Homo sapiens: one gene and its partners. The protein of the gene in region 6 interacts with the protein of the main gene of each other region in a pairwise test. Each region holds a gene or a part of one and is shown on either strand. Other genes may lie near its edges. The genes, in order: TRIM38, ZNRF2, TBC1D1, TRIM37, RNF166, UBE2E2 and RNF10.

Region 1 (3,500 bases), on a different chromosome or scaffold from region 6:
TTTAATTTTTCTAAGATAAGCATTTAAAGCCTACAAATTTTCCTTAAAATTCTGCTTTAGCTTCATTGTATATTTTTATAAATAACTTTTTATTATTGTTCCATTCTATACATCTTCTAATGACTTATTAGTAGTTTACATTTCCTAATATTTAGAATCTTTTTAGTCATCTTTTTATTATTGGTTTATAATCTTATATTGAGGCTAGAGAAAATGATCTGTGTAATACAGATTTATTGAAACTTGTTCAGACTGTTTTCTGCCTAGTATTTACTCAGTTAGTGCATGTTCCATCTATACCTGAGAAAACTGCATATTCTCTGCTTACTATTATTAAACAATTGCTGAGCTTTATGTATTGACTATGAGATTGCGCTTCTTAGATTGTTCAGACCTTCCGTATCTTCCCTTATTTCTTTCTTTTGGTCTGCCTGATCTATCAATTATGGAAAGAAGAATGTTAAAACATCCCATGATGATTGTAGATTTGTCCATTTCTCCTATAATTCTACAATTTTTGCTTTGTATATTAACACAATTCTAAACATGAATTCACTAATAATGTAGTACATTTATGTTTAAAATTGTGTTATCTTTTTTAGGTGACTCCTTTCATTCTTTCTTTTTTTTTTTTTTTGAGACAGAATCTCTCTCTGTCACCCAGGCTGTAGTGTAGTGGCGAAATCTCAGCTCACTGCAACCTCTGCCTCCCCGGTTCAAGTGATTCTTGTGCTTCAGCCTCCCAAGTAGCTGGGATTACAGGCATGTGCCACAATGCCCAGCTAATTGTTGTATTTTTGGTAGAGCCAGGGTTTTGCCATGTTGGGCAGGCTGGTCTTGAACTCCTGGCTTCAAGTGATCCGCCTGCCTTGGCCTCCCAAAGTGCTGGGATTACAGGCATGAGCCACCACACCTGGCCCTTCTTCCATTCTTAATAATGCTCTGACTTAATATCTTTTGATATAATACTATAACAGTATATGACTATATTATCTATCTTTTAGCTTCCAATCTTTCTATATGTTTTTGTTGATGTGTCACACCAATAGATAGGTGGAATTTTAAAAATCCAATTGATATTTTTTCTCTTAAGTGGTATTACCACCCCGTAAACATTTTAATTTCTCAACATGGGTTTTCCTGGGTCATTCAGGTAATATGAATTGAAACCCCAAACTTCTGTGAGTCAGGCTGATAAAAGCTAACTGAATAGAGTTTGAAAAAGGAGGGTATTTACAAAGGTGAGGAGTTGGGAAATCCACAAGGAACAGGAAGCACCCAGAACTAGGAACAGTTAGAGAGCCATCACCTCCTCTGGGCCTCAAGTGGCAGGTGTAGGGAGCTGTAACTATACTAGAGTGTGCCCAGAGGCAGAGGAATGCAGACCCTCCAAATCATAGCGTGGGACTGGGGTACTGAATACTCCCAAGGCTGCTTCTTTGTGCCCTATGGTCTCCTCTGGTGCTTCCCATTGGCTGAACCAAGCCAGAGGGCGGAAAGCCTGGTTAATCTGTCCATGTCAGCCTTCCTGGGCACAGAGCAAGACAGGGAAAAGTGAGGGATTATTTGGAAGAACAAACAGAGAGCATCCAGCACAGGAAGTGTTTCTGAATACTTGAATTCCTTAATTGTCACAGACCAACTGATCAACATTTAACTCAGTAGCACAGTGGTTTCTTAACTCTCTTGTTAGAACATCCTATTACCATTTTTTATTTTTAAAACTGCATACTGTTCAGTATCTCACTTTAGGTTATCAGATCTTTTTTCTGTCTTGTTTGATTCTAGTCTGATATTTTTCATGTATATTGGTCCTCAGTGTATTATTATCTCATACTAATGCTTATGGAACATTATCTGAGGGGAAAGAGAAGAGCTTACAATTAAAAGTCATGGGACTAGGCATGTGTCATGAGACCTGGGTCTTCCAATAACAAGCTAAGACATTAGCTGAGTCATTTTCCCTCTCTGATTCTCAATGTTGGTGGTTATTCAGTAGAGAAGGGAAAAGGTATCTTTCTGCTCAACTGTCTCATGATTCCTGGAAGTCCTGCATGGGAGAAGAACTTTGGACAGGATGGTAACCATATTAACAGGTTAGTTCTGTACCTTGGCATCCTTGAATAATTAAGACGAAGATGATGTTGATGATATCATTATTACTACATGTTGTTAGAAGAGCTGAAGCAGGACTGGCTTGTCTGTCATAATGTAAAAGAGTCTTGGAAGATGTCCGGGGTCCAGGGTCCAAAACCCCTCGTGGCCTTTGGAACACCAAGCTCTGTGCCAAATGGTGGAAGGCTGCCCTGCCGCACCACAAATCTAAGCCTAGGGCATAAAACCCCTTGTGGCTTGGATGGAACCCAGGGCTCAGGGCATAAAACCCCTCATAGCCTCTGGAAAGTGCACAGACTTGTTGGTTCCTTGCTTTTCACTCATAAACGTGTCCTCTACTATCTCAAGCAGCAGAGTATATTCTACATGTGTCAAAGAAAATGCTAAACTGTCACAGCTACGCTTAATGCACCACTACCTTTCTACCCCCATGTCCTCATGCCCTCACCTGTTTACCCTCACGTCCTCACCACCTGCTTCTTTGTTTGATCACCAATAAATAGTGTGGGCTCCCAGAGCTTAGGGCCTTTGCAGCCTCCAATCTAGTGCTGGCACCCTGGACCCACTTTATGCACTCTTAACTTGTCTTTTCTCATTCCTTTGACCCCGCCGGACTTTGTAGCCCCCACGGCCTGGTGTTGGGCCTGATCACCCCAACAACTACCACTTATTAGGTGGTTACCATGTACCAGGAATTTTACCAAGCATTAAGCAAACATAAGCTTATTCAATCCTACCCACCATTCTCTGCAACAAATACGGTAATTTCCACTTTATAGTTAACAAACTGAGGCTCAGAAAGTTAAATGATTTGCCTAAGCTCACCCAGTTTATAAGAAACAATAGTTGGGTTTGAACACAGGCTGGTTTTATTGAAAATAACTTGTGGCTGGGCATGGTGGCTCACACCTGTGTAATCCAGCACTTTGGGAGGCCGAGGTGGGTGGAACACTTCAGGTCAGGAGTTTGAGACCAGCCTGGCCAACATGGCGAAACCCCATCTCTACAGAAAATTTAAAAAAATTAGCCACTTGTGGTGGTGCGCACCTGTAGTCGCAGTTACTCCGGAGGCTGAGGCAGGAGAATTGCCTGAATCCAGGAGGTGGAGGTTGCAGTGAGTTGAGATAGTGCCAGTGCACTCCAGCCTGGGTGACAGCAACACTCCATCTCAAAATAAAATAAAATAAAATAACCTGTGTTCTTCACAGCAACAAAATTATTTTTGTTTGTTTTGTTTTGTTTTGCAGTTAGTGTGACTCTGGATCCAGATACAGCTCATCACGAACTAATTCTCTCTGAGGATCGGAGACAAGTGACTCGTGGATACACCCAGGAGAATCAGGACACATCTTCCAGGAGATTTACTGCCTTCCCCTGTGTCTTGG
Region 2 (3,593 bases), on a different chromosome or scaffold from region 6:
AGGTTTGGAATGCCTTCATTGTCACCTTATGTTTGAGACAAAACGAAACTGTGGCTAAAATTATAGAAGCATTTTAAGGGAAGTACTGAAACTGATGCTAACAAAATGAAATTTTTGTCTTAGTATTTTACATGCCAAAGTAATACATCTAAATCCTTCATCTATAGATAAAATTTGTCTTTTTAGTCTTTCTTAGTGCATTTTGGGCTGCTATAACAAAATACCTTAGATGAGTAATTTATACATGACAGAAATTTAGTGCTCACAGTTCTGGAAGCTGGGAAGTCTAAGATCAAGGTTCCAGCCAGTAGATCTGGTGTCTGATGAGGGCTCATTGCTCATTTATGGCACCTTCTGTGTGTCCTCACGTGGTGGGATAACAGACTCCCTCAAGCTTCTATAAGGATACTAACTGCATTCATGTGGTCAGAGCCCTCATCACCTAATCATGTCCCAAAGGCCCCACCTCTTAATACTATAGCACTGCAGATTAGGTTTTAACATAGCAATTTTGGGAGTACACAAACATTTAGACCATAGAGCTGATAAGCTTTTTTTTTTTTTTTTTTTTTTTTTGGTGAGGTGGAATTATATTGTATAAATTTTTTTTCTTTCATCAGCTAAATTTTTCCTTTAGTGTCACAGTGAGCTTATGGGATATGTGGAGCATACATCTCATCTCATAGCTGAAATGCATATGTCTGTTGGTCTTCAACAACATTTCCATTTTCTTATGTTACATATGAGTGTTATATTTGCTTATTTGTTTGTTTTCGAATATAGAACCTGAATTTGAAACTAGCCTACTACATGGGCAGGGTGAACTCTGTTAATCAGGTGTCTACAGAAATCTGAACCAATGGAGTCTGCTTCTGTGGGTCTTGAAGAGTCATTTTTAAGAGTTTATAGACATGGAATATCTTGACTTGTACATTTTTGCTTCTGTCCTGACTGTTCTTATTTATCAAGTGATAAATTCTTGTATACCTTTTAATAGTCCTAGATTAAAGGTATATGGGTTTGAGGAGGATTCAGTGTTGTTAAAACATTTTGTAAGGCACTGTGTAGCCATAAAGCTCAACGTTTCTGATATCCTTCAGCATAAGAATTTAATAATCAACCCAAAATAGAGAGACATGAATATTTGTGGTCTTGATTAGTTAGAAAATTGCTGTACTTATTTTGGGGTTTTTAGTTATTTGGGAGAAATATTTTAAATCTCCGTGTGTGTGCATTCTTTACTTGCGTGTAGTCCTTATTGTGAAAGGGGGATGACTTTGTTATGTATTTTTTGTGACTAAACTTTAATTGATCCTTCTGTTTCTTAATCTGTTCTTCTCCAGATCACTGATTTTATGAGTTTTCAGAATAGTAAGTAAGGGTATGAAGACTTACAGTAACTAAAGCAATGTTCATGGGGAAATCTATTTTTACACAGGTTTTCTTGTCTTGACAAGATGCTTGAAAAACCAAGAGGATATGAAAATCTGTCTCTGGAGAAACAAAGACGCAGGCATACTCAGCCAGAAATCTGAGTTTTGTGAGACTTGGTAATACAGAGATGGACAATCGTACTGGGGTAAAAAAACCCTGCTGAAGAGAGGACAGTGACCACAGAACTCAGTGTACCAAACATGCATACAAAGGACACACAGGGATTTTGAAAATGCTGCACATCCCTTAATAGTCATCTACATAGGTAATACTGATAAACATTTTGTATTCAGACGCCAAAGTTAACTGATTTAAAAGTTGATTTACTTTTTATTAAGTTCTCCAGAGCTGCACAACTAGTTATGTTTTGATTTGTTTTGTTTTTTAATTTGGGGTCTCTTTGTTTTCCCCAACATAATGTTCATAATGTTTCTGCATTCATCTGTTCTTAAATTGAAAAACATATAATTTACTTCTTATAAATTGAAGTCTTAAATGTGAAACCAAGAAATGTAATCAAGCAGTAAAAACATCTGAATGTAGACCATGATCTCAAGTTCTTCCATTTTCTCCCCCACGAGTGGAAAATAGACTTCTACATAGGAAAGCTAAAATATGTTAATATTTTTAAATTAAAGGTTTAATATCAGAATGCAGTCCAAAGAGCAAATCATATTACATAATTACATTTTAATTAAATATAGAATATTCTACTGAATTGCAATTTATTAAATATTCTTATCCTCTTAAATAAAACTGCTCAACAGTTAATCAGCAGTGAATCATCTTGCAGCTATGCAATTTAAAAAAAATACAGATTACCAATTTCAAGTGCTGCCAGCTAAAATAACTGTTTTAACGGGTATCTTTTGTTTGTTCTTTTCACTTAATTATTTTATTGTGCTTTGCATCTCCAGGCAGTTCTCTCACATTTGGGTAAAATGTTTAGCAGGCTGTAAACTTAAGAAAAGGGTAAAATAAAATTTTCTGGAGAGGAACTTGGAATTTGAGGGAGATTTTATATACCTTTAAAAACTGTAATTTAATTGGGATGCCAGGTTTATAGCAATTTGCAACTTTAATTTTCCAGATAATCTGGAGGTTAGCATTTGATAAATGATTTTTTAAAGTAGATATGAAGATTTTGTTAATTTATAATTTATTCATGTGTTATTACTGTAATTGAAAATGTTATAGACACTTTTAAATTCAGTTTGTGTAGAAAGAAATGTGTTAAACAAAATTATGTTAATAAATATTCCCACATAATACATCTGAATGGTTAAAAATACTGGAAGAGTTGTCAGGGCTACAATAGTGAATGTCCTTTTTTTTAATATCAAAAATATCGATAAGTAGGTTTTGTGTTTTCAACGTAGGGAAAATGTTATCAGTGAATAGGTGGTGTACTTTACTTGGTATAATTTAAAGTTGCACAGTAAGTACTGTTTCCTTATTTTAATCTTTCTTTACTCATAATGTATTTAAGAATTTGCTGTTTTATTTAACGCTGCTACTCTTAATCTTCTCTAAATTTTTCCCCCTACTTTCTTGCTTCTGTTTCACATTTTTTAAAAGGGCAAGTACAGGAGCAACTGCTGCTACCCAGAAAAATGTGTGTATTATAAATAATTAAAGAGTTTTTAATTGCTTTCTGTATGATTCCAGCTCAGATAACATTTTCCCTGAAGTTATGCTGTGAAATGCCTTTTGTTATGCTGCAATTGCTAAAGGAATCCAAAACCTCCATTGTGACAGCTGAAGGCACAGTTTAATAGGTGCTTTTTTACTAGTTATGAAAAATATTCGTCCCTTAAGGAAACGATTCTTTTTCTGTTTTTTTCTGTTACCATGAAGTCTTAATTTGATTTCATTTTATTTCACATTTTTGATTTTGTAAGCTTTCATACCCTCCTGCTCAACCCCCTCAAGTAAAACCTCTTAGAATGTGAATAATTGGTTCATTTTCTATTGCTGGTATACTCTTGTGATGAGAATTATTTTGTTGTCTTCCATTCTTAAAGGAAGAGATTTATTACAGCTGTGGGGATTAACTGTATTCTCCTGGAAGTTGATTTTCTGATAGGTTAATGCAAAAGTCATTGCAAAAACTGCTATTACTTTTGCGCCAATTTAATAGTTCACTTGTTTACTTTTTA
Region 3 (3,500 bases), on a different chromosome or scaffold from region 6:
GCTGCTTGTATGTATTGTATATGTTTAAGTGTACTTTACATCTTTCTTTTATTCATCTTGAATTGAGAAACTACTATATTCTATTTTATGTAATTGGATCCCTTCTAAAAAATTGATCACCTAGGAGTTGCAAAGAAACCAAATAGCCCTGAAACTTGACAAATGAAAATGGCCCTTTCAGTTGTCCAATTAAGCTAAGGGTTAGCTCTTTGATATGATTTGGAGGGATATTAGTAAGAATTTAGATCAACAGGTTTGCATGATGGAGATTGTGTTCTGTGATGTATTGTCTTAGAGAGACTTTTAAATCCTTAAAAGAATCTTCACAACTGTTGAGTCCTGAAGAATGAAAAACTTCAGTTATGAAAGTAATCAATATTTCATAGTATGTTGGGAATTTTTTCCTAATTCTTATACAATTAAATGTATGTAACTTCTCCCTTTGGTAAACACATTTCTTTTTTTTTTTTTTTCAAATTAAAACCCTCAATACTTGTTACCTAAAAGGCACTCAACTGTGTAAATGAACAGGTAGAATTCAGTCTCCAGTCCACTGTTAGATGCATTCATTCTTGTTTACTCTATTCCTGTTGATTTATTTTTTCTCTTCCAACAATTTCAATAGGAGCAAGCTGCTACAATTCCTCTTTTTGAATATTTTGAATATATTAAAAATATATTGGCCACTAGCCACGTCCTGGGTGCAGTGTTAAACATCAGTTTGCTTGAGTGGTAGTAGTTCATTCCTTTGAAAAAGCGTGCATCGTGAAGGCATACAACTTTAAAATATTGTCATGATTCTCAACAAATGTTTGAGCACTCACTCCATAGATTTATTGCATACCTAATAAAACAATAACTTATGTTTGTGTAACATTTTACAACATAAAAAGTACTTTTGGTTGTATCATCTTGCTTTGTTCTTGAAACTCAGATACATTTTTACTTTACCCTCTTACAGAAGAAATTGAGGTGCAGAAAGAAATTATTTGCCCTGAATTGCAGCAGTAAGTGCCTACAGAGTGATTTTCCATATTCTAAGAATATTGATACAGTTCTTAATCTCAAATTATGAAGTCGAATCTCAACAGTAGATCAGATTCGGAGAGAGCCTTAAAATGTGGGTTTAACATGAGTGAACACATGTGGCAAAGATAAAGAACTTGGTTAAGCAGTGGAGACAAGTTCTCCAGCACTCACACCCCTTAGAAGCTGCAGTAAACAGTCCTGTTTTCTAGAGAGAGGGCACTATTCATGGCGTTGTTCAGAACGTTACAGATTGTGGCTTATGTCCTTCACTCCTGCACTTGGCCAGTCTCCCCATTTCTCCAGCAAGCCAGCAGTGTGTCCTTGAGGAGCGGGCATTTATTTAATGGACCTTCATTTTCTTCTGCTTTTGGTGGTGGCTTCTAGATGGCATTATAATCAGAACACATACTTAGATACTGCAATGTTTGCCCGTGCAGGAACTAGAGATTTATAAATCCCACATATTCCCCATGGTGTGTCTGATCTGCTGTGTGTTTGCTCCCAGGAGCCATCTGTGTGTGAAAAGGAGGCCTTGCCCATCTCTGAGAGCTCCTTTAAGCTCCTCGGCTCCTCGGAGGACCTGTCCAGTGACTCGGAGAGTCATCTCCCAGAAGAGCCAGCTCCGCTGTCGCCCCAGCAGGCCTTCAGGAGGCGAGCAAACACCCTGAGTCACTTCCCCATCGAATGCCAGGAACCTCCACAACCTGCCCGGGGGTCCCCGGGGGTTTCGCAAAGGAAACTTATGAGGTATCACTCAGTGAGCACAGAGACGCCTCATGAACGAAAGTAAGATTTGTTTAAATTTGTTGCATAAATAGCTGGGGCATATCTGTGACTAGCCAGGTATGTGCATCCCAGGTATGTTTATTGAGTGAGAGAAATGAGTCAGGCTTTACTCTTGGTTTGGAGATAAAACTGGAAGCAGTGACATGTTCGTTCGAGCTGCTTGTGAGTATACAAGCAATGGGTACTTGTATTGTCAGGAAGCAAGTGAAAGTGAGCAAAAATGGTACCTAACATGCATAGTCATTACTCCTCAAACAAAGTAAGAGACGTTGTTGACTGTGGAACTTTGCTGCTGTGAGGAAGAGGGCAAGCGGATGAGTCTCCCCATCTGAAGCCCTGGAGCAGGGTTATAATGGGAGGGAGAGGCGCTGATCCTTACAGGCAGAGCAAGAGAGGTATGCTGGCCTCATAGGGTGACAGGGGTGCTTCAGCTTCTGGTCCTAGCTCTGCCGTGAACTAATTGTGACCTGGACGAATTTGCTAAATTCTCTGAATAACAAAATTGGAGTAGATGTTTTCTAAAATCTCTCACTGTAAGAATTCTAGATTCTTCTAACAAGATTTATTCATTGTAATAGTTGGGTTCCTGTGACCAGTTAGAATCGTCTGGTTATGGAGAAGAGTAATCAGAAGTTCCCCCCATTCCTTCCAAGTGTCCCTTAGTGATTCATTTAACTCTGTGTGCCAGAGACTATAAATGGACACAGTTATCTTTAAAAACAACTTTAAACAATTTTAAAAATCTCTCACCTAATATGAATCAAGGTCACACCTGTGTACAGTCGCTGCCTTCTTCTGACCAGCAGCCGCAGAAGTCCCAGGACCTATGTGTTCGTGTAGTTCATACACGGATCATTGAGAGTGTGAGTTAGTACAGAAGTGTTTGGAATGTTCTGAGTAAAGAAGTGTGAGCATTAACAGTCCTGGATGATGGAGCAGAGCCTCCCAGCTTTGTTTTCTGTCAGCCATTGGAAAGAGTTCTTGGTTCTTTGGAATTCAGCGGGGTAGTGGTGATCCCAAAAGCAGGGGACATGTCAGAAGGTACTGCTTAATAAATACACGCTTTTAGAGACACACATCGTTGGGTTGTAGCTGTGTAAGTTTCTTGTGTTTAACACCCTGTCTGCACATTACTTCTGTGCTGCCTCACCACTGCCTGCCCACTCCTCTGTTGTTGGCGTTTTCAGTGATCATTGAAACATTCCTGTCTGGAGAGTCCTAGTTCTCTTGTGAAGTCTGCTGTTTCTCAAAAGCCAGAGTTGATAGGACTTAGTATCAGTACTTTTCCTTTCTCCATGAAGAATGTAGCTTTATAATAGATGATGTCACACATCCGTAATGGGAGGGATGAGGAGATGCCTGTCTGTCTGCCTCTCTAGCATGGCCCATTCTGCTTTCTTTCCCCCTTGTGAGCTCTTTTCCGATTTATCTACAGGAAATAAGACATTGAAATTCAGGGCAGGATATTGTTCATTTTAAAGGGAAATGTATTTTTTAAAGTTCAGTTTTTTTTTGCTTTTGTTTATACTTTAATTAAAAATTTTTTTTCCTGCCAGTTCCTGAAAAAGAAAATAGAGAAAGAAATATTATTGTTCCTGGGCGAAGTGGCTCACTCCTGTAATCCCAGAGCTTTGGGAGACTGAGGTGGGAGGTTGCTTGAGGCCAAGAGTTCAAGGTCACAGTCA
Region 4 (3,500 bases), on a different chromosome or scaffold from region 6:
ATAATGTTTTACTATTTGAATTTTTTTTTTAATGTGGCACAATTCTTTTAAGGTTTCAGGTACGTTCACCAACTTTCTTTCAAAAATCCCGGGACCAGCATTGGTACATTACTCAGTTGGAAGCTGCACAGACTAGTTATATCCAACAAATAAACAACCTTAAAGAGGTAAGAAAATATCTATTTCTGTTTTGGTGTTTCCTATTGTCCTTTTGGCTTGTTATATTTGTAATTAGATTTTATATATTTTATTGCTATTTGTAATTTTGTAATTTGTAATTAGAAAAAAAATCTAGTTATCTTGTTCCCCATCCTTACCAGTTCTGCAGTGTCCAGTTTAGTAGACACTAGCCACATACGGCCATGTAAATTTTTATTTTACTTTATTTATTTATTTTTTTTGAGAAGGAGTCTCGCTCTGTTGCCCAGGCTGGAGTGCAGTGGTGCAATCTCGGCTCACTGCAAGCTCCGCCTCCTGGGTTCACGCCATTCTCCTGCCTCAGCCTCCTGAGTAGCTGGGACTACAGGCGCCTGCCACCACACCGGGCTAATTTTTTTGTATTTTTAGTAGAGACAGGGTTTCACAGTGTTAGCCAGGATGGTCTCGATGTCCTGACCTCGTGATCTGCCCACCTCGGCCTCCCAAAGTGCTGGGATTACAGGCATGAGCCACCACGCCCTGCCACTTTATTTTTATTTTTTTTTATTTTGGAGACAGGTCGGACTCACTCTTGTTGCCAGGCACAATTTCCACTAACTGCAGCTTCAACTTCCCAAGCTCGGGTGATCTTCCCACCTTAGCCTCCCAGGTAGCTGGGACTACGAGCATGTGTCATGGCTAGTTTTTGTTTTTGTGGAGATGGGTTTCTCCATGTTGCCCAAGCTGGTCTTGAACTCCTGGGCTCAAGCAGTCTGCCTGCCTTGGCCTCCCAAAGTGCTGGGATTACAGGTGTGAGCCACTGTGCCTGGTCTGTAAATTTAGCTTAATTAAAATTAAAAATTTAGTTCCTTAGTTGCAGTAGCCACATTTCAAGTGCTTGCATTGGTTACTGCAAATCTAGAGCATTTCCATCATTGCATAAAGTTGTTTTGAACAGTGTGGCTGTAGTTTGAGGTAAGCTGTTTGTGTTTCTGTCAGTGACTTAGTTTCTCTTCCACAAGTTATCTTGGATTTAGAGGATTCTAGGCTATAGCACAATTAAAAGTTGTCCCATCTTGAACTCTTACTATTGTTGAATGAGCACTGGGGAAGATTAATTGATGAATTTTTATTTTACAGTGGTAAACTAAGGAATGTTTCATTTCCCTTAGGAAGTTAGGGTGTGGCAGGAGGTTTGGAGTGCTGAGAGTCGTTAATAGGTCAGGGAGGAAAATGTGAATAAATACATGCTTTCAGAGATTTTCATGTTAAATGTGCTATTTAAAACTGCCTGTATTCACTATACTGTTTGCTAATTGTATGTTTAGCTTAGGCTGGATATGAAAGAAGGAGGATGAGCATAAATGGGGCAGTTTATCTTTGTCATCAATTTTTTTTTATAAATAAAAGGCAGTAGGGATTCAGAGAAATGGTTTAAGAAATGGTGCCAAGTGAGGTGGCTCATTCCTGTAATCCCAGCATGTTGGGAGGCCGAGGCCAGAGGAACATTTGAGCCCAGGGGTTCAAAACCAGCTTGAGCAACATAGCAAGATACCGTCTCTAAAAATAAATAAAAATGAAATTAGCCAAGCATGGTGGCACACACCTCCAGTCCCAGCCACTTGAGAGGCTGAGGCAGTAGGATCGTTTGAGCCCAGTAGTTCAAGGCTTGCAGTGAGCTATGATGGCACCACTGCACTTCAGCCTGGGCAACAGAGTGAGACCATTCTCAAAAAATAAATAAAGCAATGGTTTTAGAAACATCTGGATGCATTTTTTTTTCACTTGAGACATCTTTTACTGTGCCAGTGAGCTGTGGCTAATATTTGTGCTTTTCTTGTTTTAAAAGAGACTTACTATTGAGCTGTCTCGAACTCAGAAGTCAAGAGATTTGTCACCACCAGATAACCATCTTAGCCCCCAAAATGATGATGCTCTGGAGACACGAGCTAAGAAGTCTGCATGCTCTGACATGCTTCTCGAAGGTGGTCCTACTACAGCTTCTGTAAGAGAGGCCAAAGAGGATGAAGAAGATGAGGAGAAGATTCAGAATGAAGATTATCATGTAATAATGAGGCCAGTTTTAGATTTTTGTGTTTGATTAAAAAAAAACAGTAGCATCATGGCTTTTAACATATTATGTGCTAAAACAGTAGGCTAAAAATATTGTCCATTGATTTCCATTAGTAATGTATGTATGCCCTTATGTAAATGTTAATAAGTCAGAAGTTGTTGAATCAAAGCATTTCAAGGTTGTGAAAAAAACAATACATTGTATAAAACAAACCGTGATACACATTTTAAAACCTAAACTACCATACATTGTGGATTTTAAAAATGTGTTCTGGCCGGGTGCGGTGGCTCACACCTGTAATCCCAGCACTTTGGGAGGCCAAGGTGGGTGGATCACATGAGGTCAGGAGTTCGAGACTATCCTGGCCAACATGGCCAAACCCTGTCTCTACGAAAAATACAAAAATTAGCTGGGTGTGGTGGTGCTTGCCTGTAATCCCAGCTACTTGGGAGGCTGAGGTAGGAGAATCACTTGAACCTAGGAGGCGGAGGTTGCAGTGAGCCAAGATTGTGCCACTGCACTCCAGCCTGGGAGACAGAGCAAGACTCTGTCTCAAAGAAAAAGAAAAAAAAAAGGTGTTCTATTTTCATTCACTGAAACTAGTACATGCCTTATCATTACTTACGTAGGTAGACTGATTTAGGATTCGGTAGCTAGCCAGGTTCTATCCCAGCTAAACAACAGTCAGAATCCAGAATAAGAGTTCAAGAAGTAGTTGATATTTTTACATAAGAAGGGATGCATAGACAGTTGGTTTTTTTGTAGTAATTTTTAAGATGAGAGACTTCAGTTTTAAGTTAAAATGAAGGACCCAGTGGGTCGAGAGAATGCACAGATTAAGTGCTTTGATAAACTAGAGATAATAGGGTTTGGAATGGAGCAGTCAGGTGAAGCAGTTAACCTTTGATAAACTGAGTTAAAGGAAGGGTGGAGTTTGCAGGTAAGGCAGCTGAAAAGTTGGGGAAGTTTTTGCTTAATAGTGGGTATTTTTTTTCTGTGCAGATAGGTGACAGTGTTAATTAATGACCTTGATAATGGTAAAATTAGGTAGAATTGAGGAGTGATGGTTTGAAACGTTACTCTGTGAGGAAGCTGATGTGGAATATGTGAAGGATTCCAGTCACACTGAGGGCCCAGCTGAAGGCGGCACGCATAAGTTAGTAAAATGATATCAGTCAGTGTGGTTGTGTGATTTTTCTCTACAGGGCTCAGCAGCTGAGGCACAGGAGCAGAAAATAGATTTTTGAAAACTGTATTATTCTTTGGTGCTTGGTTTATGGGCTGGATG
Region 5 (3,500 bases), on a different chromosome or scaffold from region 6:
TGGCTGCTCAGTGCCTGAGATTGTTTTAGCAGCAGAAGGGACCGGGTCCCCCTGCTGCTGGCAACACAGACGCTTGCTTACAGTTCTCTGGTCCTGGACACCTGAGGTCTCGGCCTCCCCAGGACGGCCCTTCCAGATTCTCAGGACCGCCTTGCCCTCCCTGCCCTGTCTCCTAGGTGACCCTGGCAAAGATGAGAGTGCACATTTCGTCCTGCCTGAAGGTCCAGGAGCAGATGGCCAACTGCCCCAAGTTCGTCCCCGTGGTGCCCACATCACAGCCTATCCCCAGGTAGGCACGCTGCCGGGCAAGGGAGAGGAACTGTCCTCGGCGGTTTCCTCGTTCTGGGAGCAAGCGCAGTGCCCCATCCCAGAGAGGCTGGGGGAGTCACCCGGGGCCGGGTCCACTCTGGGGAAGTGGACCTTCCTTGCCACCCTGCAGGAAGGCTCCTGTGCTGCCCTCCCTGGCATACCCACCAGGCCCCCTGGGGTAGGGACAGCTCAGCTGTGGGGAGCAGGAGGAGGGCGCAGGCCGGGCCCACACATCGCCTCCCAGCAGGTGGATGGGCCGAGAGACGGCTCCTGCCAGGGCAGCGCCAGCAGAGTCTCTGCCGTTTGGCTGGCCTAGTTGTGTGGGGTGGACGAGGGTCCTGGGTGTGTCCTCAGGAGGCCATGGCGTGCAGAGGCACGGGGGGCACCCAGCCACTGCCACGCTCTTGCAGCCTACAGAGGGCAGGCCTGGGGCCACGCCTGTGTTTGAGAGAAGCGGGGAGGCAGAGCCCCTAGACACCTAGCCGTGCCACTCACTCTACCCCCGCCCCGCCAGCAACATCCCCAACAGGTCCACCTTCGCCTGCCCGTACTGTGGTGCCCGCAACCTGGACCAGCAGGAGCTGGTGAAGCACTGTGTGGAAAGCCACCGCAGCGACCCCAACCGCGTGGTGAGCAGTGCCTGCCCCAAGCGACGCCTGCGCCAGGGGAGGCCTGTGGGGGACAGTACAAGGCCCAGGAGCCTGCTCGCGGCGAGTCCGGGGGTGCCCAGGCCACAAAGGCCTCCTGGGACCCAGGGTGGGAACTTGGCTGCCCGAGCAGCACCTGGCGGAAACCGGGGAGTGTCCATGAGTCCTTCAGGGTGACGCGCACTGAATAACTCGCTTGTCACCGGGACACGCGCCTCCAGGTCTGGGGTGCCTTCCCAGGCTGAGGCAGCACTGACGGGGCTCAGTGGAGGGCCCCCAGTCCTACTGCGGCTACCCCGCCTCTCCGCGGTCCGGCTCGGCTTGACCCCAGTGCCTGTTCCAGGTGTGCCCCATCTGCTCGGCAATGCCCTGGGGGGACCCCAGCTACAAGAGCGCCAACTTCCTGCAGCACCTGCTTCACCGACACAAGTTCTCCTACGACACCTTTGTGGTAGGCATCCCGCCAGCACCGTCCTCCCCCACGCCCTCCTCATCCACCCTCCTCCTGCTCGGGCCCCTCGCCAGCCTCAGGGTCCGCAGGGTTCAGAGGAAGCCAGAAACAGAAGCCTCGTTTCAGGTGGCCACATTCCCCCAGGTTCTGTGGGGGCTGCCTGCAGGTGGGGAGTGATGGCAGCTGAGTTTGAGTGGCCACTAGAGGGTGCCCAGGCCTCTCGGGGACATGGACCGCACAGGGCAGGTCCCTGCCTGCCCACCCCACAGAACCCCTCGAGGGTGAGCCAGGCTTCCTTCTGGAAGCTTTCTAGAGAGCGCGGGAAGGACTTTCATCAACATCGAACACTCCAGCCCTGTCTCCTTTTCCCACCCGCCGCGGGTCAGGCACACACCTGGCCCCCGGGCCTGCAGACCCTCGCACAAACTCCTCACTCCTGGTGCGGCCCCTCCCTGCGCCGCCCTGTTCATTCCTGGCCCTGGCTAACAGTCCTGGCGATGGCTGTCACTCCCTCTGCCAGTCGTCCGGGACCCACGCTCCGCCTGCCTCAGGATGGAAATTGTTAGAGGTCAGGGAGCCCTGGCCGGCCTGCTCACCTCGGAAACCCCGGGCTTAGAGTCCGACCTGAACCAGCAGCCATCCATTCCGAGTGCCCCCGTACCCAGCGGGTGATGGACACACCTTCACCTTCTCACCCCCCAGAGGACCGTGCAGGCCCCGAGCCTGTGGGGACAGTGGAGCTGGGTCCTTCCTGTGTCCTGCTGGAGGGAGGCAGGAAGGGTGGACACGCCTGTGTGGGTGATGGGCAGAGGGGACCTCTCCTTCCTGTCTCCCTCGAGCCCGGTGCATCTCTCCTTCCTGTCTCCAGGACTACAGTATTGACGAGGAGGCCGCCTTCCAGGCTGCTCTGGCCCTGTCTCTCTCTGAGAACTGAAGGGAAGCGCAGCCACCCGCCTGCGTCTGGGGTCAGGGATGTCCCCGCTCCTGTGTCGCACCTGGCACCTGCTCGGGAGCGCACCTCACCGGACTGAGCTCACAGGAGGAGCCTGCACCCGCGCAGAAGGGGAGCCGGGGCCGAGCCTCCGGGCCTGAATACGGGCCAGCCGCCGAGGCCGCCAGAGCAGGGCCGCCTGGTCCCACCGGCGTCGCTGGGTTCTTCGGTGCTTCTGGCCGAGCAGGCGGCCTACTTGGGCAGGGCTGGACGCTGGGACCTGGAGCTGCCGCCGTCTCTTCAAAGCCATGATACCCCCTCGTGGGAAGAAGGGACCGACGCGCGAGTCGCGCTCCGCAGTCGAGCCGGGAGGAACCCAGGCTGCTGCCCTGCCCAGCCCGACCCTGCCCCGGCCCCACTTCCACCTTGCGCATTTGGTACTGGCTTTTGTGATACTTAGGAACCCTGGCATCTTTTCTATATTATCCAGTGTGATAATCTTTTCACGTTTTATAGAGCAAAGACAGAGCAGTTACTCTTCATATTGCAATATCTGTGTTTGACTAGGAATAATAGTATTTTTATGGAACATTTACAAAATTATATTTTTTAAGAAAACAATCAAAACAAGCATTGGGGGATTGGGGCAAGGATGGAAGGAGCAGTGGGGCAGCTGCCAGAGCTCAGGCGAGCCATGGGGTCTGCTGTGGGGTCTGCCCTGGCCACCCACTGTGTGTCTGGGTCCTTGAGGTTTGTACGTTTCTCTTTGATGACCAGGAAGAAATCCCAGCACCCCAGCCACAGGCTGTGGCTGCTCCCAGCAGAGGCGGGGCCGGCAGAGAAGGGGCCTCCTCCACCCAGAGTCCTGGCCTTGGCCCGCTGTCACCTTCAAAGCTGACTGTGCCCCGCTGCGGGAGGGGACGGCACCCCAGTGGTGGCAGAGCTTGGGGGCCTGGGCAGGGGCCCGCTTGGCGGGCCGGGCAACACGTCAACATTCTTTTCTGTTCTTGGCATTAATTATTGCTGTCTTTTTTTTAAAAAAAAAAGTTTAAATAAAATGTCTCAGAGCATCTCTAGCAGCCTCGACTGGCTTTTGTGCTCCACGGTGTGGAATCGCCAGCTGCTGTCTGTGTTGGAGGTCGGCTGTGTCCTCCCCAGGCAG
Region 6 (3,500 bases):
GAATTTAGAGTGAAATAAAAATGAAAAAAAGCAAGAAATATGTTACGACTTTTAGAGCTAGATGTGAAACATACTGATATAAAATTTCAGTGTTCTATTAAGTGACTTTAGTGCTCATAAAAGATGTCACAGCTGTGGAGACTGGTGCTCTTCATTTACAGAATAGGTAGAAAAGTAGTCAGCTTTTCCGTTAGTATGTTTCAGAGCTGTTGGGGCAGATCTGTTTCTGTTTGGCATGGGGAGCTGTTGGGGTTGAAGGGGTGCTGGTGGTGGTGTGTGTGGTGTGTCAGTGAAAGGATTCACTATTTTCTGTTGACTCTTTGTGGCTCTGTGCTTCCTGATGCTTCCATTCTTTTGCAGTGCTTTTTGGTTTGTCTTACAAAAATTTCAGTCCATTAAAGATCGGTGTTACAACATTGCTTTGGCTTAGAGCAAGCTACAAGTTAAATCTTTAGTGATGATGAATTTTCATCAGTGTCAAATAGCTATCCATTTGGACTAAGTTATAGTAATTAAAAAATTTTGCTTTATTTGAGGTATCTTTACCTGTTCTTATTCTTGATCATATCAGAAACAGTTTTATTTCAAGTTGTAATTTGATTAAGAGTAATCAAAAGGATCCATTTCAAAAGGAATTTGTTCAGTGTACCTATAATTTTTAAAGATATATTTTTTGCTGTTAATGGTACTTATTAAGTATAGGTATTTTGTTTTTAAAAAGGTGTCTGAGAAGATAGCTATACAGTGCTGAAAGTGATTATTAGGTGACAAAACCATGGGGAGCACAAGGCCTTTTAGAGTCTGGGCATGAGTTTTGTTGGTTCAGTTCTGGATTTGTCAGAACACTTTAAGCTAGTCAGCTCATAAGGGATGTATTCATAGTCATCAAACTCAGAAATTGATTATGATAGAATGACAGTTGAGGAGAGATACTCCTTTTCACTTACTGGAATTGTTTGTGTCTGCTGTCTAGATTATAACAGCTACCTAAATATCAAGGTATTGAGGAAATTGAGTTGGTAATCAGAACTGCTTGGGGGGCCTGAACTCAGAGCAAAGGGAATTTGAAAGCCTTGAGGGATATTTTAGCCAGAATGTGGGGAAAAAAAAAAAAATCTTCAGTGTCTTCATCTCTTGTGAAATATGGTTGCTTTAGTATATAGCTGAATGCTGTCATATGGTTCAATTTTTATTTAGAATCATGCAGTCATGCAGGCCTCTGTGTTCTTCTGTTATCACAAAGGTTACTTAAAACCACTTACTAGTTTGGAGAATTTTAACCTTAGCCCAGCCCTGAGGATGTATTGATTGAATAGGGATTTGAAAGTGTCGTCCCATTTTTGTGTTCCCACAAGTATTTGTACTAACCTTCGTTTTTGTACTTAGCAAGTTGGCTAGTCGAGGTTTTTCACAGTTGTGGGACCAAAGGGCTTAGCACAGCGCCTGGTAGAGAGTAGACCCTTAATCATTTTTGTCTTATTTTCTGTAACAGCATTATTGATATATAATTCACATACTATAAAATTTACCCTTTAAAAATGTACAACTCTGTAGTTCTTAGAATATTTATTATTAGAATTGTGCAAGATTATAATTATCTAATTTAAGAACATTTTTATCACCGCACAGGGAAGCATCATACCCATTAGCCGTCACTCTTCACTACTCTCCCCTCACTCCCTGGCAACCACTTACCCATTTTATTTTTTTATTAATTTTTTTTTTGAGACAGGGTCTTGCTCTGTCACTCAGGCTGGAATGCAGTGGTATCAATCATATTTTTATTTTTTGTAGAGATCGAGTCCCACTACGTTGCCCAGGCTGGTGCTCCCTGAGCTTCCCAAAACATTGGGGATTACAGGCGTGAGGTTCACTACTGAATTTTATGTTTATGGATTTGCCTGTTCAGGACATTTCATATAAATAGTCAAACAGTTTGTGGTCCTTTGTGGCTGGCTTCTTTCACTTACCAGAATGTTTCAAGGTTCATCCATTTTGTAGCATGTAGACACAGTACTTCATTCTTTTTTATGGCTAACAGTACATTATGTGAATATACTACTATATTTTGTTCATCCATTCATTTGTTAGTGGATATTTGAGTTGTTTCCAGTTTTGATTATTATGAATAATGTTGCTATGAACATTTCATGTATAAATTTTGTATGTTTTCATTTTAGAATACATTTTGAATGGATGAAGGAAAAGTTTTAGCAACTCCCAAAGCTGCATTGTTTTGTAAATGACCAATTTAATCCATTTTATATTGAGATTTACTTGTTTTACTTTGAGGCTCATTCTCTGTGTTCTGGAGGTAGCTTACTGTAGTACAGCTAAATAAATGATTTTTGATTCTTTAATCCAGGATCTAAAATGTCCACTGAGGCACAAAGAGTTGATGACAGTCCAAGCACTAGTGGAGGAAGTTCCGATGGAGATCAACGTGAAAGTGTTCAGCAAGAACCAGAAAGAGAACAAGTTCAGCCCAAGAAAAAGGAGGGAAAAATATCCAGCAAAACCGCTGCTAAATTGTCAACTAGTGCTAAAAGGTACTTCAGTTATTATAACCTTTTTATTGTTGGTATCAATTTATCATCTTAAGTTCTATTTTTCTCTTGCATTTAATCATTTTTTCTGGGATGTCGGCCGTGAACTTCATGGATTTTTCTTTTCCCTTCAAGATGATCTCGTTTACATGGTTTTAACCATAGGGAACTTCAGTATTTAAAGTCAGTTAAATGGCAAGGCAAATTCATAACATACATTTCCATAGTGTGTTTGTGTGTTTATGTATTATCAGGGAAACATATACAGGGTGTGTATGTAAAATTGCAGTAGTTTCATTTATGGTTACTTGACCATAAATATTTTTTTTCTGTTCAGTAACACAGAATAGAGATTAGGAATCTTTGAAGTAGTTACTGAGTGAGTGACAGTTTATTTTCCACTACTCCCAGTTGGTAAAGTCAGAAATGCTGACATTAGCAACAGGTGCATCTTGGTTTCATTACATTAGTCAGTGGATCCATCTTGATACGGATTTTCTCTTTCTCTAGAGAATAGATGGATCTGGAAAGTAGGTATTTGAATGATTTTCTGTTGGTACTCAATCTCTTAAAATGATTGGCATGTCACTGGACTTAAAGGGAATCTGTTTGATATTGTTACATTATAGAATATCTCTTGGAAAATAATTTGAAAGATAAATTAAATGTAGTGTCTTTCCTGATCCTGTGATTTTATGTTCTTGCTTTGTTTTCATATATTTTACATTGACCAAGTCGGAAGTATACATAAAAGCGATCTGTAACTTGTAGGCATAGTGGAATGCCTGAATGTTGTATTACAGCTTTATATGTTATTTTATGGTGTGGGTTAAGGGGAACTCCTTTCTCAAAGATAAAAAACCATTATTTTGTTCTAGTAGACCTTGTTTTCCTTTGGCTTAGTCAGTCTACAGGGTTGGAAAGAACCTTCTCAGGACCCTTGGTGAGAGATGT
Region 7 (3,500 bases), on a different chromosome or scaffold from region 6:
TAGAGTTGGGGTCTCACTTTGTTACCCTGATTGGTTTCCAACTCCTGGACTCAAGCAATCCTGCCTCGGCCTTCCAAACTGTTAGGATTAAAGGCATGAACCACCATGCCTGGTTTATCTTTTTTTTGTTTTTAACAGTCTCACTCTATTGCCCAGGCTGGAGTGCAGTGGCGCAATCTCGGCTCACTGCAACCTCTACCTCCCGGGTTCCAGCAATTCTCCTGCCTTGGCCTCCCAAGTAGCTAGGATTACAGGCATGAGCCACCACGCCTGGCTAATTCTGTATTTTTAGTAGAGATGGAGTTTCGCCACATTGGCCAGGCTGGTCTCGACCTCCTGACCTCAAGTGATCCACTCACCTCGGCCTCCCAAAGTACTGGGATTACAGGCATGAGCCACCATGCCCAGCATGTTTTATTCCCCCAGGGTGGAAAGCAGTGGTGCCATCATAGCACACTGCAGCCTCAACCTCAGCTTAGCATCTTTCCAACTCAGCCTCCCAGCTAGGACTGCAGGTGTGCACCACCACACCCAGCTAATTTTTAAATTTATTTTGAGACAGGATCTTACTTTTGTCACCCAGGCTGGAGTGCAGTGGCATGATCTCGGCTTACTGCAGCCTCCAACTCCTGGGTTCAAGCAATCCTCCTGCCTCAGCCCCCCAAGTAGCTGGGACTCCAGGCATATACACCATTCTTGGCTTAATTTATATTTTTGATATAGACGGGGTTTTGCCATGTTGCCCAGATGGGTCTCAAACTCCTGAGCTCAAGCGATCCACCAGCCTCAGCCTCCCAAAGTGCTGGGATTACAGGCGTGAGCCATCAGGCCCGACCTAATTTTTAAATTTTTTTGTGCAGACGGGGGTCTCACTATGTTGCCCAGGCTGGTCTCAAACTCCTGGGCTCAGGCGATCCTCCAGGCTCAGGTGATCTTCCCACCTCAGCCTCCCAAAGTGCTGGGATTATAAGCATGAGCCATGGGGTCTGGCCCCACTTTTATCTTATTACAATGATTCTCAATCTTGCCAGTTCATAGGAATCACACAGATGAGCTTTTACGGAATTCCTATGCTCAGGCCTCACCCTCTAAGATTCTGATATAACTATACTAAAGTACCTGTCTGCAGACCTGTAATATTATCTGAGTAATTTTTTTTAAACTTAGAAAAAATTATTTCTTGGTAAGTACAATCACCAGCTTTTTATAGCAGGCTAAATAAATTCAAGGTTAAACAATGCCTCAGAAAGAAGAAAATGTAAGTTAATAAATCAGAGACCAAATTTTGAAAGCAACCACTTCACGCCCATAGTCTGTCAACCTCACTGTATAAATGAGATGTCATTCTCTCCAAACCTGACCACCTAAAACCTGGGAGTCAATCTAAACCATGTGAAATGGCAGCAATGTAAACAGAACAGTCACAGAAACAGGCTAGGTTCACTCCTACCAGTTACCCTTAAATCCTGCTTACGGACAGTGACCCTTACCTTAGTTACAATTTAAGGCCAGGCATGGTGGCTCCCTGTAATCCCAGCACTTTGGGAGGCCAAGGCAGGCAGATCACATGAGGCCAGAAGTTCGAGACCAGCCTGGCCAACATGGTGAAGCCCCATCTTTACTAGAAATACAAACATTAGCCAGGTGTGGTGCCACACGCCTGTAATCCCAGCTACTTGGGAGGCTAAGGCATGAGAATCATTTGAACCCGGGAGGCAGAGGTTGCAGTGAGCTGAAATCACGCCACTGCACTCCAGCCTGGGCAGCAGAGTGAGACTCTGTCTCAAAAAACAAATAAATAAAGTTAGAACTTAAAAACTAAACTTTTACCTATTACTTCAGTTAGCAACAGTTAGTGTCAAACATGGCACTAGTAGTAACAATTAGAAAGCAAAGTTTCAGCGCTGGACTTGGTGGCTCATGCCGGTTGTCTCAACACTTTGGGAAGCCAAAGCAAGAGGATCACTTGAGTCCACGAGTTTGCGACCAGCCTGGGCAACATAGCAAGACCCCATCTCTACAAAAAATTTAAAAATTAGCCCAATGTGGTGGCACACACCTGCAGTCCTAGCTGAGAGGCTGAGTTGGAAGGATTGCTTAAGCCAAGGTTGAGGCTGCGGTGTGCTATGATGGCACCACTGCTCTCCACCCTGGGCTACAGAGTGAGCCTCTGTCTCAAAAAAAGAAAAAGGCCAGGCACGGTGGCTCACGCCTGTAATCCCAGCACTTTGGGATGCTGAGGCGGGTGGATCACGAGGTCAGGAGATCAAGACCATCCTGGCTAACATGGTGAAACCCTGTCTCTACTAAAAATACAAAAAATTAACCAGGCGTGGTGGCGGGAGCCTGTAGTCCCAGCTACTCAGGAGGCTGAGGCAGGAGAACGGTGTGAACCTGGGAGGCGGGGCTTGCAGTGAGCCAAGATTGCACCACTGCACTCCAGCCTGGGAGACACAGTGAGACTCCATCTCAAAAAAAAAAAGAAAAAGATAAACCAGGCACAGTGGTTCAAGAGTTCAAGGATCTCTTAAGCCAAGGAGTTCAAGGTTTCAGTCAGTTATGTTTGCACCACTGCATGCCAGCCTAAGTGACAGAGCGAGAGCTTGTCTCTAAAAAAAAAAAAGCCAGGCACGATGGCTCATGCTTGTAATCCCAGCACTTTGGGAGGCCAAGGCAGGTGGATCACGAAGTCAGGAGATAGAGACCATCCTGGCTAACATGGTGAAACCCCATCTCTACTAAAAATACAAAAAATTAGCCAGGCTTGGTGGCGGGCGCCTGTAGTCCCAGCTGCTCGGGAGGCTGAGGCAGGAGAATGGCGTGAACCCGGGAGGCGGGGCTAGCAGTGAGCGGAGATCGTGCCACTGCATTCCAGTCTGGGCGACAGAGTGAGACTCCGTCTCAAAAAAAAAAAAAAAGGAAAACTCAGGGGATGCAGAACCCCAGCTAACTCAGCCACATTCTCTTGCTTTGCTTTCCTTAACTCCATTTCACATCACCTCAAGCAAAGGAGATTCTACGAGGATAGGTATATAAAGAAAACACATATCCTCCAACCTCATTATCCAAGACTGTTTCAGATGATCCTGGACCCTACCTGTTTGACCCTAACTGCTGCTTTCAAGATGCACCTCACGGTTTGCATAGATTTAGGTAAAGCCAGATTCTACATGGCAAGGGCTTATTAAGAAAGTAAAATGGCCAGACACGGTGGCTCATGCCTATAATCCCAATGCTTTGGGAGGCCGAGGCGGGCGGATCACCTGAGGTCGGGAGTTCGAGACCAGCCTGACCAACATGGAGAAACCCCGTCTCTACTAAAAATACAAAAAATTAGCTGGGCATGGTGGCGCATGCCTGTAATCCCAGCTACTCCGGGGGCTGAGGCAGGAGAATAGCTTGAACCCGGGAGGTGGAGGTTGCGGCAAGGCCGAGACTGCACCACTACACTCCAGCCTGGGCAACAAGAGCAAAACTCTGTCTCAAAAAAAAAAAAAAAA

The links.
Region 1: the proteins of UBE2E2 (region 6) and TRIM38 interact in a two-hybrid assay, tested with the Homo sapiens proteins (one study listed by BioGRID).
Region 2: the proteins of UBE2E2 (region 6) and ZNRF2 interact in a two-hybrid assay, tested with the Homo sapiens proteins (one study listed by BioGRID).
Region 3: the proteins of UBE2E2 (region 6) and TBC1D1 interact in a two-hybrid assay, tested with the Homo sapiens proteins (one large-scale study listed by IntAct).
Region 4: the proteins of UBE2E2 (region 6) and TRIM37 interact in a two-hybrid assay, tested with the Homo sapiens proteins (one study listed by BioGRID).
Region 5: the proteins of UBE2E2 (region 6) and RNF166 interact in a two-hybrid assay, tested with the Homo sapiens proteins (one large-scale study listed by BioGRID and IntAct).
Region 7: the proteins of UBE2E2 (region 6) and RNF10 interact in a two-hybrid assay, tested with the Homo sapiens proteins (one large-scale study listed by BioGRID and IntAct).

Annotation. Positions count from the first base shown.
Region 1 is NC_000006.12:25,979,802-25,983,301, forward strand, and holds part of TRIM38 (E3 ubiquitin-protein ligase TRIM38), read left to right. Parts: intron 1-3,362; coding exon 3,363-3,500. UniProt on the Homo sapiens protein: E3 ubiquitin-protein and E3 SUMO-protein ligase that acts as a regulator of innate immunity. Acts as a negative regulator of type I interferon IFN-beta production by catalyzing 'Lys-48'-linked polyubiquitination of AZI2/NAP1, leading to its degradation.
Region 2 is NC_000007.14:30,364,597-30,368,189, forward strand, and holds the end of ZNRF2 (E3 ubiquitin-protein ligase ZNRF2), read left to right. Parts: intron 1-1,343; exon of another isoform or gene 1,344-1,408; intron 1,409-1,438; 3' UTR 1,439-3,093; downstream 3,094-3,593. UniProt on the Homo sapiens protein: E3 ubiquitin-protein ligase that plays a role in the establishment and maintenance of neuronal transmission and plasticity. Ubiquitinates the Na(+)/K(+) ATPase alpha-1 subunit/ATP1A1 and thereby influences its endocytosis and/or degradation.
Region 3 is NC_000004.12:38,048,084-38,051,583, forward strand, and holds part of TBC1D1 (TBC1 domain family member 1), read left to right. Parts: intron 1-1,534; coding exon 1,535-1,815; intron 1,816-3,500. UniProt on the Homo sapiens protein: May act as a GTPase-activating protein for Rab family protein(s). May play a role in the cell cycle and differentiation of various tissues.
Region 4 is NC_000017.11:59,047,881-59,051,380, reverse strand, and holds part of TRIM37 (E3 ubiquitin-protein ligase TRIM37), read left to right. Parts: intron 1-52; coding exon 53-167; intron 168-1,987; coding exon 1,988-2,203; intron 2,204-3,500. UniProt on the Homo sapiens protein: E3 ubiquitin-protein ligase required to prevent centriole reduplication. Probably acts by ubiquitinating positive regulators of centriole reduplication.
Region 5 is NC_000016.10:88,696,409-88,699,908, reverse strand, and holds the end of RNF166 (E3 ubiquitin-protein ligase RNF166), read left to right. Parts: exon of another isoform or gene 1-175; intron 176-176; coding exon 177-289; intron 290-823; coding exon 824-938; intron 939-1,299; coding exon 1,300-1,407; intron 1,408-1,793; coding exon of another isoform or gene 1,794-1,975; intron 1,976-2,275; coding exon 2,276-2,341; 3' UTR 2,342-3,408; downstream 3,409-3,500. UniProt on the Homo sapiens protein: E3 ubiquitin-protein ligase that promotes the ubiquitination of different substrates. In turn, participates in different biological processes including interferon production or autophagy.
Region 6 is NC_000003.12:23,206,327-23,209,826, forward strand, and holds part of UBE2E2 (ubiquitin-conjugating enzyme E2 E2), read left to right. Parts: intron 1-2,365; 5' UTR 2,366-2,373; coding exon 2,374-2,549; intron 2,550-3,500.
Region 7 is NC_000012.12:120,540,856-120,544,355, reverse strand, and holds part of RNF10 (E3 ubiquitin-protein ligase RNF10), read right to left. Parts: intron 1-3,500. UniProt on the Homo sapiens protein: E3 ubiquitin-protein ligase that catalyzes monoubiquitination of 40S ribosomal proteins RPS2/us5 and RPS3/us3 in response to ribosome stalling.